Homo sapiens: one gene and its partners. The protein of the gene in region 2 interacts with the protein of the main gene of each other region in a biochemical or structural test. Each region holds a gene or a part of one and is shown on either strand. Other genes may lie near its edges.

Evidence for each region.
Region 1: the proteins of RELN (region 2) and EFNB2 form a complex in vitro, tested with the Homo sapiens proteins (one study listed by BioGRID).
Region 3: the proteins of RELN (region 2) and EFNB3 form a complex in vitro, tested with the Homo sapiens proteins (one study listed by BioGRID).

Annotation. Positions count from the first base shown.
Region 1 is NC_000013.11:106,528,912-106,532,662, forward strand, and holds part of EFNB2 (ephrin-B2 isoform 1 precursor), read right to left. Parts: intron 3,145-3,751; exon of another isoform or gene 1-3,144. UniProt on the Homo sapiens protein: Cell surface transmembrane ligand for Eph receptors, a family of receptor tyrosine kinases which are crucial for migration, repulsion and adhesion during neuronal, vascular and epithelial development.
Region 2 is NC_000007.14:103,542,029-103,545,779, reverse strand, and holds part of RELN (reelin isoform a precursor), read left to right. Parts: intron 1-435; coding exon 436-656; intron 657-2,901; coding exon 2,902-3,049; intron 3,050-3,751. UniProt on the Homo sapiens protein: Extracellular matrix serine protease secreted by pioneer neurons that plays a role in layering of neurons in the cerebral cortex and cerebellum by coordinating cell positioning during neurodevelopment.
Region 3 is NC_000017.11:7,708,202-7,711,952, reverse strand, and holds the end of EFNB3 (ephrin-B3 precursor), read right to left. Parts: coding exon 3,703-3,751; intron 3,519-3,702; coding exon 3,426-3,518; intron 3,319-3,425; coding exon 3,214-3,318; intron 2,787-3,213; coding exon 2,377-2,786; 3' UTR 581-2,376; downstream 1-580. UniProt on the Homo sapiens protein: Cell surface transmembrane ligand for Eph receptors, a family of receptor tyrosine kinases which are crucial for migration, repulsion and adhesion during neuronal, vascular and epithelial development.

The DNA of each region.
Region 1 (3,751 bases), on a different chromosome or scaffold from region 2:
AGCCTGCCCCATTCAACTCAAAGTTTAAGACTCACATTTACGAGTAAAATTACATCTAGGTAGAGCCCACTGCTTTTGGCATATTGGATTACTACTCATTTGAATTAAAACTAAATTCCTCCCTCCCCTTTTAAAAATTGTATTTTATCTTTTTTTCCAGGGTGGGAAAGACAAAACTCACAGAAGAGCTCTGTGGCTGAGGGAGAGGGACAATGTGTCCTGTTTACCTTTGCTTCTCCCATGCAGCGGGAGAGGGAGCTGGGTCTGAAAAGATGGCTGAAATCAAAAGGTCTCTGTTTTCTTTTCAGATAACCCCAGCCCTACCTATCCCCTCTGGTCTCTGTTCCTTCCCAGCATGTCCCTGCCTGAAGCCCAAATAGATTAAGGCAACGACCGCGAAGTGCAGTTAATCCTACAGAACGGCTGCTGCTGTTAGGCCAGGAGTTAAAAAGGAAAATCTCCCAGGCCCTAACAACTGCAGTGATCTGAAGTTTTAATCAGCCCCAATCTCAATCTATAAAAAAGGCAGTCAATGAAATCTACCTTTGCCATATTATCCACCACCAATGAGCAAGAACTGAGCAGCTTTTCTTTACTGCCTCAGCCATCCCAGACCACAAGTAGAGCTTTCATACTTCCTAATCCCAGTTTCCAAGTCTGTGTGGTTCTCACATAATGCCCAACAGCCTGGAGGCAAGGGCCTTCGTCCCGCGCCCTTTTCAGAGACGTGTCATTTCTAACATCAAGCTAATCTATATGTTGCCATGGCTTCACCCTTTATCTGCCTTTACATCTTATGAACTGCATGGATTTACCACATTATTTTTATCTGAAAGACAGAAAATGGTGGTTTTATTGCCATACAATCAGATTACTGCTGCTAGTTTCTCTATGCCTTTTTACTATACTTCAATCAAAAGGGATCAGTTTCTTTATACTCTGCCCTTGATTTACATCACATCTGTAAAGACCTAGTCTGAGTTGTAATCCCCTTATTAACTATGACCAGGGTTGATTTGCCTAAAAATAAAAGCAAATTGTGTCAGACCCTTTCACTTTGTTTTTGATTCGGAACTACAAAATGGATTACTAAAGAAATCTTCAGAGTTCACACGGCTAGTATCGTGCTGAATTTAAAATGAGAATTAAACAAGTTAAACAGGGGAGGCATGTCAACGGTTTACATCTTCCATCATGGGAGAAGGGCTGAATTGCTTATGTCTTTGTATTCTTTGGCTTTATAGAGACAATGAAGCCACAGGAGTTTTTCCAAGCTGTTCGGAACATGTCCCATTTGCTATCCTTCCTTCTTTGCTGTTCTTATATTCCTCCCCCAGCCTCCTTCTAATTCCCCCCTTAAAAAGAAGGGGGGAGCTGTTCCCTGAAAGAGCTAATTCCTGACTAGAAGCTTATAGTTCTATGGGTTCTGCATATTTTAATCAAAATATTTTAAACAGTTGAGCACTCCTCTTTAAGGCTCTACTCCGCTACACAAAGGGTGAGCTCATAAGCAAATCTATGTAGATGTATATTAAGTGACCTGAAAAACAGGTTCTTTATGTCAGCAGCAAAGGCAGGCAGAGATTAGGCTGATAGGAGGACCAGTTTAATCACCTTCCTTAGAAGAGCACTTCTATTTGTCTAATTTGCAATTAAGTATTTTAAGAATGAAGTTCTCATAAAACGTTAAAGAAATATCTTTCCTAAAAATTTTTTTATTAGGGTCTACAATCTGTATTTCCTTTTCCCCTGCCACTCCCATTCCTATGACGCATTACTGCAGTCACGCTGGGATCTCGAATAGTTTCCCATTAGGTGAACGCACTCTAAAACGTCGCCCGAAGTTTGGTGTCATACTGAAGCTCTCGGGAGCTACCTGGAAGATTTCAGAGGAAGGAAAGACAGCAAGGATTTAGTTGCTCCAGTTGCAATGTCCATCTGAAGGCAATTATCTCACTGATCCACCAACCGAAGGATGCACCTCAGTAAGTTTACAGACAAGAGGTTTTAATATAAATCCACCAATTGTTCTTCAGCTGACTCTGTCTGGAGGAACCATTCAAACACATAGTTTTTAGCAAGCTGGTCTCCAGGCCCATGGCGAATTCACCTGTCCACACACTTTAGCTTAAGTCAGAAGCCTCTGGAAATGTTGGAGTCATCTGCATGTCTTTGCGTCGGCAGAACCAGCGTCAACAGCTTATGCTTTGTAAAAGATTTAGAACCAGGTGCTTAGCAAATCATCTTAACCTCCAGCTCCTGTTTCTGGGGCTTGAAGCTGTAACTGTTGAGGTTAAGATGTGCAGTCCCTAGACACATGATTCTCAAATAAATTCTCATCTGAAAAGAAGGCTACCAAGCATGTTGTGAGGTATCGCTTTAGCTTAGTCTTTGTGCTCTGCCTGGCTCAGTTGTCCTGCAGAACAACGACAGTCCATTACCTACAGTTTATCATCCTGACAAAATGTGAGGAATGTGGATGTGAAAGCACTAACAATTCCACCCCTGGTGCTTTGAGCTTTTTTCTCTCTATATTAAAACCGACAAGATTAACCCAAACGCAAACTGTGGAGCATAGTTCAAGGGGCTATTCAATCAGTGCTGAATGTGCATTTGTTTACCTACAAAAATAAGAATTTCAGACACAATGGAAGGCAGGCTGGCTTATATATGTTATTGAATGGACTGTTTAAACAGCACTATCCATTGTAGTTTATTTTATCAATCTCTGACAGGTCTGTATTTATTCAGAGCCTGATTGTGGTGAAGCCCATGTATTATACGTTATCTGGATATCATCCAGCCATTCTTTTGTATCAAGTCAATTAGTATCAGGAATCCAGTATTATATAGGGAAAAAATTACATGGGAAAAGCAAAATGCTATGTTAACTAACTAGTATGTGATGCACAGGGAATGGTAACCCCAGACATAAGGCATTAGTACTCGAAATTTTCAAAGTCAGTGTAATGCATTGCAGAACACCATACCAATACAGATTTGCTCACATTAAAGTAAAATTAATTTTTTTTTAAAAAAGAGCCCACTACTTTACTTAGGCCAAAATCTCCCTCTTGGAAGAAAATGTTCTACTGAAGTGTTAAGTTAAAAACGGAAGCTAGGCATTACTGTTCTCTGCTGAATTAAAAAAAAAACAAAAAAAAAACCAAAACTTTAAACAACCAAAATGGCTACAACGGACCCAACTCTACCAGAACGTATCAAAGCAATGTGAATAACCTAACAGGGCAGCTACTGTTTCAGCACGCAGGACATCTTTCCATTATTACATACAGTCAGGGACGGGAGAGCCGACAATGTGATTAAAGTAGTTACGGAGACGCTGAATTTACAAAGGGTTTTCTGGACCCTGTATCCAAACAGCTGCTGCATGCTCCCTGTGTCGACCACCTGCTAAAAAAGCTGACCTCTGAATGAAACAAATCTAATTACTGATGGCGGCTTCATTACAAATGAATTGTTCCACAGTTCATAGGAACTGATGTGAAACTTCAATGCATTTGATTACCTTCCTGCCACATCATATTTACCGATTCAAACTTTCCTCTGGAAATAAATATAAAACTTCCCCAAGGAAAGCGACCCCCTGTCATCAGGGGGTTGTATGCATTCTCAAAAACTTAGAGAGGACTCTTTCCTATGGCTCCTACAGGAAGAAATCTTTCTGATCTCTGGAGCTAGCATTCAGCTGCAAGGGAGACCTTTTCCAGGCACACATTATCCAGTCATC
Region 2 (3,751 bases):
CGCCCAGCCACTCAGGAGGCTGAGGCAGGAGAATCGCTTGAACCCGGGAGATGGAGGTTGCAGTGAGCCAAGATTGTGCCACTGCACTCCAGCCTGGGGGACAGAGTGAGACTCTGTCTCAAAAAAAAAAATAAAACAAAATAGTAAGGATGGAGAAGTCTTCACCAAGGAAGTCAATATTGAAAAAGATGGGAAGATCAAGTGAAACATTGACATTCTGATAGGATCAGGAAAAGCTTACAAGAAACAAGAACTTTATTGGCAAAATCCTGGAGATTGAGGAATGGAGTTTTGTTCCTGAAATGGCAAATGTTTTCTATTTCTTGGGTGTTGAGCATAGGTAGAAGCTGCCCATTGTTCATTGATCAGATGTGCATACTTTGAAGGTATATTGTTCTGTTGATTAGCTTTTGAAAGACTTGTCCTCTTTTCCAGATCTGTCCGTTTCAGATGGTACCAGGGATTTTACCCTGCCGGCTCTCAGCCAGTGACATGGGCCATTGATAATGTCTACATCGGTCCCCAGTGTGAGGAGATGTGTAATGGACAGGGGAGCTGTATCAATGGAACCAAATGTATATGTGACCCTGGCTACTCAGGTCCAACCTGTAAAATAAGCACCAAAAATCCTGATTTTCTCAAAGATGATTTCGAAGGTAGTCTTTTCTTACAAATTCTATGTAGTCTTGTGAAAGAACTTATATGTTAAACACAATTTTTGGTAGATAACTAATCATTAAGTTTAATTCTAATATCTCATTATTATTTCAATTGTGAACATCCAAGAATTCATTTAGTTCTGAATTTATAGGGTTCCATTTTGGAAACAATGGTCAGTGAGTGAAATACTGATACATGCTACAAGACCTTTATTGAGAAAAACTAAGGCTGTGTTCACAACTTTTTCTACCACATGTAATTTCTGCCTAATGACAATTTTAGAATATATCTATAGAGACTTAATCTTGGATGGAAGGGTTTCCAGAAATATAAATTCCTGTTACTGCTTTACCACAAACTGCTTAAATAGCCTCTCATCACTTTCTATAGTTTAGTTTTACACCTAGAATTCAGTATCATTATGTGTGAAGACAATGTTACAACATAGTAAAATGCATGTAATGTAATGATTAGAAAAAAGCATTTAAATTATATATGCACTTTGATCAAACTGTGGAAAAACACCTCCATAAAAGAAAGTCTTAAGTATAATAGCCATCTATATTAGGGTAGTGGGATTAAAAGATTTTCTTTCGGCCTGGTGCAGTGGCTCATGCCTGTAATCCCAGCACCTTGGGAGGCTGAGGCAGGTGGATCACGAGGTCGGGAATTCGAGACCAGCCTGGCCAACGTGGTGAAACCCCATCTCTACTAAAAATACAAAAAAGCCGGGCACGCTGGCAGGCACTTGTAATCCCAGCTACTCGGGAGGTGATTCGCTTGAACCTGAGAGGCGGAGTTTGCAGTGAGCCGAGATCACACCACTGCACTCTAGCCTGGGCGACAGAGCGAGACTCCATCTCAAAAAAAAAAAAAAAAAAAAAAAAAAAAAAAAAAAAGATTTTCTTTCTTTTTGCTCAGTTTTTGTAAACTTGTTCTATTTATGGTTTTACAATACATTTTAAAACTAGATCTAAGTATATCCATACAGTGGAACATTACTCAGCCATAAAAAGGAATGAAATACTGATACATGCTACAACATAGATGAAACTCAAAAACATGCTAAATGAAAGAAGCCAGACACAAAAGGCCACATATTATGTCAATCTGTCTTTATGAAATATTCAGAATAAGTAAATTCATAAAGACAGAAAGCAGATTATCATTTGCCAGCGTTGGAGGAGGGGAAAGTGAGGGGACAGTGACAGTTTAACAGGCACAGGGTTTCCTTTCGGGCTCATGAAAAAGTTCTGGAACTAGGTAGTAGTGATGGCTGCACAACAGAGTGTATCAACTAAATGCCAGTGAATTGTTTACTTTGACGTGGTTAAAATGGTAAATCTTATGTGATGTGTATTTTACCACAATGAAAAAATAAATAAACGAAATCGGAGTATCTGAACAGATTTAAGAGCTGGTTTTTAAAGACAGTATTTTATTTTATATTTTATTTTATTTTATTTATTTTTTGAGATGGAGTTTTGCTCTTTCACCCAGGCCGGAGTGAAGTGGCACAATCTTCGGCTAACTGCCACCTCCGCCTCCCGGGTTCAAGTAATTCTCCTGCCTCAGCCTCCCAAGTAGCCAAGATGACAGGCACCTGCCACCACACCTAGCTAATTTTTGTATTTTTAGTAGAGACAGGGTTTTGTCATGTTGGCCGGGCTGGTCTCGAACTCCTGACCTCAGGTGATCCACCTGCCTCGGCCTCCCAAAGTGCTGTGATTACAGGTGTGAGCCACCGCACCCAGCCTTAAAGGCGTTATTTAATAGGCAATAATAAATGGTATTGAAATTTCTCCCACTAAACTGTTTTTTTAAATATTTTGTTGTCCCTGCCTGATACTATCCTTACATTAGAGAGGACACAGTAGAGAGGCTGGTGGAAAGGCTACACAGCCCCCACCTTCCTGATGGCCTGAACTACTCTCTGACTAACCAGTGTCCTTTTTTTCAGTGTGAACAAGCCGAAAGGAGGGATCCATCTAGCTGGACCATAGATACTCAAGAAAATACCCCCTCCTCCTATCACAAGAATCTTTAAATTATTCCAGCCAAGGCTAAACAATTCAAACAAGCTGAAATGTTGAAAAGGCCTCTTATCCTAAAACATGACTTTAATATTTATGACTTCATATTTTGAAACTACATAATGCATTTACCATACTCCTTTTAAAAATATAATACAACTCACTATAGTTGGGGTCATAGGTAAACCATATTTTCCAATTTTTTCAGGTCAGCTAGAATCTGATAGATTCTTATTAATGAGTGGTGGGAAACCATCTCGAAAGTGTGGAATCCTTTCTAGTGGAAACAACCTCTTTTTCAATGAAGATGGCTTGCGCATGTTGATGACACGAGACCTGGATTTATCACATGCTAGGTAATCATTTTTAGATGCTGTTGAAAAAAACCACATCGTAATGTATAATAGCAGAACATAATCAAATCAGAAGGAAGCAGAGCGATTTCAAGGACAAGGCCTTCCATTGTAAATACTGAACTTCTCTCTTTATCAAAGCTTTCAGGAAGACACAAGTTACATAATTTCTATTCTAAAATTGAAAGAGATTATTCAATAACTTAATCAGAAAGGAAACATACCTAAACAGGCAAAAATTAACATCTGGTATTTTATAAGACTGAGATTAGGAAGTAACAATGTTTAATTTACTTTAACTTCAATAAAATATTGTGTCTTCTTTATCTTTCTGTATAACATACTTTTCATTAGCACTTGCGCTATGTAGAAATTATTTACACTTATACCATGCTTAGTAGAAAGCTTAGTTGAAATGCAGTATATCTTCAAATTATTCATAATTAATTTTATCTCCGCCAGCAATTTAAGTTAAAAACATTTGAAGGGCAGCCTTATTCTTTATAAGCATCTTTCCAATGATTCACTCACACATTCTAAGCAGTCATTTTCTAAATTGAACACAGTCACTCAGAAACAAACATTTTAAACTGGCTCAGAGGATTATGTCCTGTCAAGATGTGTATCCCTTGATCATTTGATGGGCCGAAAACTTAACAAGGAAGATAAAAAAGATGGTTTAACATGTGTAAAATGGAACCCTGA
Region 3 (3,751 bases), on a different chromosome or scaffold from region 2:
TGACGGCTGCTTTTGTGGTTGGAGAATGGGGCTAAGTCTAGGGGACTGGGCACCTGGGCTTTTTGGGGGAGAAGAGCCTCGGTTATGGGTATACAGGGAGCCAGGGCACACGCAGCTTGATGCCTGGGTCCCTCCCTGAGTCCTTCCTACTTCCTTCTGATCAGCCACATCCCTTCTCCCCATGAGTCCCCAACAGCAAAACTTCTCAAGTGCCTTGGGTAGGGATGGTAGGGAATAGACTTTAACATGTGAACATGTTTTTACCACTTTGATCCTAATTGCGTCTTACCCTGTCTCTGGTGCTTTGGCTTAGCAAGACACTCAGACTGTCCCCATGGATGAATTGGCGACCCCACTCCTGCCTGCATTACTCTCTCCCTCCCCTAGAGGTGACACCTTCCTCTGCCTTCTCGCCCAGCCCATTTTCGCCTCCCCAAGCACTGCCAACCTCACCACTCCAAACTAGCCCTATCCCTACCCACCCCCCTTGGTTGGTTTCATGCAATCCAACCCTCAGCTGAAAGCCATTCTAACCAAGCCTTTGTCCCAATTCAAGTCCAGTCATTCTCCAGCCTTCTTGTCAACTTTTGAAGTTTTTTATTTTTATTTTTTTTGGTTTTTGTTGTTCAAATTTCCCTTTTACAGTAAAACTACTGAGGTGACGGCATACCCCGCCACCATGGCAATATCAACTTCCTGTTCCCCAGAAGGAGCGATTAGAAAAATCAGGAAGGAGCTGGGAACTACAGCACCAGAGAGGTGAACTTGACCTCTGGTGGACAAAGCAACCATCTTGGCTGGTGATTGAGGTGGCCAACCTGGTGCCCAACAACAGCTTTGATCTAATAAAACTGAGCTGGGAGGAAACTGAGGCAACACCCAATTGCACACTAGAGGGCAGGAAGAGGTATCAGCTGGTCACTATGGAAACAGTGGCCTTTGCTAAGTACCACTGTCAGCTAGACCAGCCAGTAGGCCACCATTTTGGTCACTAAGAAGGGAACTGTGTTGAGTCTGAAAGGAGTCAGAAATGTAGGATGGAATGAACAAGACAGCCATCTGGGTTACTCGGGAGAGCACATGGGTTCTTGGGGTAGTCCTGTTGATTAACAGAGATTATACTGGGATATGGAAAGGAAAGAACAAGACAAATTAGGCCTGCCACAGCACATGGCAGTCATCTTAGCTGTCCTAAAATCAGCACAGAGCACAAGGGAAGGGAGATCTTGGGAAGTGCCACTGAAGACTGGGAAAAGTCCTTCTCGGTCCACCTCTAACCTCTTACAGTCAGTAAGTTCCAGCTTCCTCCTGAAAGGAAGTTCTTCCCGCCCTTCTTCTCCACAGAATAAGAACCATCCACCTCCCACCTCCTGATCCCCCAGACTAAGCCACTTGGAGTTCCAGCCAGACCACTTCCTGTTTCAGAAGTGCTACTTCCTGTCCTGGATGAAGGCACTTCCAGTTCCTGCTGCACTGCTTCTGCTACTTCCCAGGCCATTTCTGTCCGGGCCTGGTCACCTCTTGTCTGGAGCAAGTCACTTCCGGTCCCAAGTGGCCCATTCAGCATCAGACCAAGTCCATACATGTCCCGACCGGTTCATATCTTGCTATTGGCCACTGGACAAAACGGGACACTTCTTCTCATGGTAGCTGTCATGACCCAACCACCCCAAATGGCTGGAGTAAGTATGTAGAGGCCTGGGCCAGGCCAGAGAATGGAGCCCTGCTGCCCATGGCCTGAGCTGGGGTGGAGTGTCAGAGCCTTCCCCATAAGGCCCCCATTTTTGGCAGACTGAGGGGAGTGGTTGGTATGAGAGGTCAGAAGGGGGGCTGAAAGCTAAGGGGAGAAATGCTTTGATGCCCCCACCCAGGAGATGGGAGAGGCACAGGATAAGAAGCCAAGAGGGTGAAAGGAGATGTGGGGAGGAGGATGCTAGGGAAGAAGAACAGACCTAGAGACGGAAGAGAGGGAAAGAATAAGAGATAGAGAAGAGAAAACCAGTGAGAGGCAGAAAGAAGGCGGTGCCAACCAAAAGGTGGGCTGTTCCCGCCCCTAGCTCTGGGTGGGTGAGGGGGACAAGGATGCCTGGGTCATGGTCAGAGAGGAGGCTGAGCCTGTGCCCCTCCCCAAGGAAAAAGGATCCAGGGACACTGAGACAGAGGGGGGCACCCATGGCCAAACGGGAGGGCAGGAAGTGGGGCAGTGGGAATCCTAAGGAATCCTAAAAGTGGAGACGAGGACAGCAGCCGGGAGGAGTGAAGGGGCTGGGGGGGCACAGGGGGCCGAGATGTTAGAGGTGTCCCTCAAACCAGGAATTAAACTGGAGGAGCACCCCAAGAAGGGCTGGATTCAGGATAGCCACGTGAGAGGAGCCCTCATACCTTGTAGTAGATGTTTGGAGGGCTCTGGGGGGGCCCATCCTGCACGATATACACAGGATGCCCATAGTCACCACTCACCTTCTCATAGTGGGGGCAGAAGGGGGGATCTGCAGCCCCGCCACCCCGCAGAGCTATCCCTAGCTCCCCAGGCTCAGCCTCCCGAGGTCCCATCCCACCTCCACCCCCCAGGCCCAGAGACCCTCCCCTCCCGAAGGAGCCAGGACCAGGGTGGCGACTCTCCGAAGGCTTGGCCCGCCGTCTCCGCCAACACATGGCACCCCCAGCCCCTGCCACGCCCAGCAAGAGCAGCGCCAGCCCCCCTGCTGCCCCAGCCACTGCAGGCATGCTGGGAGGGGGCAGGGGGCCTTCAGCACCCCGGGAGGTTGCATTGCTGGTGGGGTCACCTGGCAGGGAAGGGGTGAAGGAGGAAAGAGGGGGAGGGACTGAAGGAGCCACCTGGGCACCTGGACACCCAACCCTGGGGGTCCCCATGGGCTTCCCTTGTAGCGCCCAGGCCCCTTGGGGACCCCATCTCTCCTCCCCCTCCGAACTCTGCTCAGAATCCAGGTGTCCAGCCCTTCAGCTTCCTGCCACGGAGTCCTCCCCACTTCTCTGACAGCACTGATTGAAGCACTGACTTGGCTAATTAGTTCTAATTGAGTCTTTTCCTCATTTGGTTTCCATTCCCCTCCCACCCTCCCATCCTCTCTTCTCCTCTTTCCTGTATCACCGCCCCCAAAACTGAAGAGGGAGGGAGGGTGACGGCAGGGCAGCTGGGGTCTGAGAGCAGAGGAAGCTGGGGAAGGCAGGGGCCTAGCCCCTGGTTCCTACCTGGCAGGTTCTCCTTCCCAGGCTCCAGGCTGTGGGCTGCCCCTCGGTCTCTTTCCATGGGCATTTCAGACACAGGTTTTCGGGGGACAGCCCCTCCTCGGGGACCTGGAGATGAGGAAGACCCAGAGAGGGGCTGAGACAACTGCCCCAACCATGATCGTACTGCCCCAACGTCCCTTCGTGCCCAGGAGGTGTCCCCCAGCCCCACTCACTTTGTCCCACTCGGAGAAGCACCTTCATGCCTCTGGTTAGGCACACACCTCCCTGCAGGCTCTCCAGGCCCTCCCGGGTCCCATCCGATGTGGCTGGGAGAGAAAAGCCAGAGGAAGAGGTTGGCACTCCAGAATCTAGCCCTGATTCTGGCCCCACACCCTGGTGTGAACACTGCCTGAGGGCACTGGGATCTCCCTCTTGGCTGCAGGGGTCCCCCTCCCTCTCTGCTCAGTATCAGGAGCCCCCCACTCAATCGTGCCCTCTGCCCAGCAGTACCAATGATGTAGTAATCGTGGTGCGAGCGGAACTCGTGGCCCCAGAGATT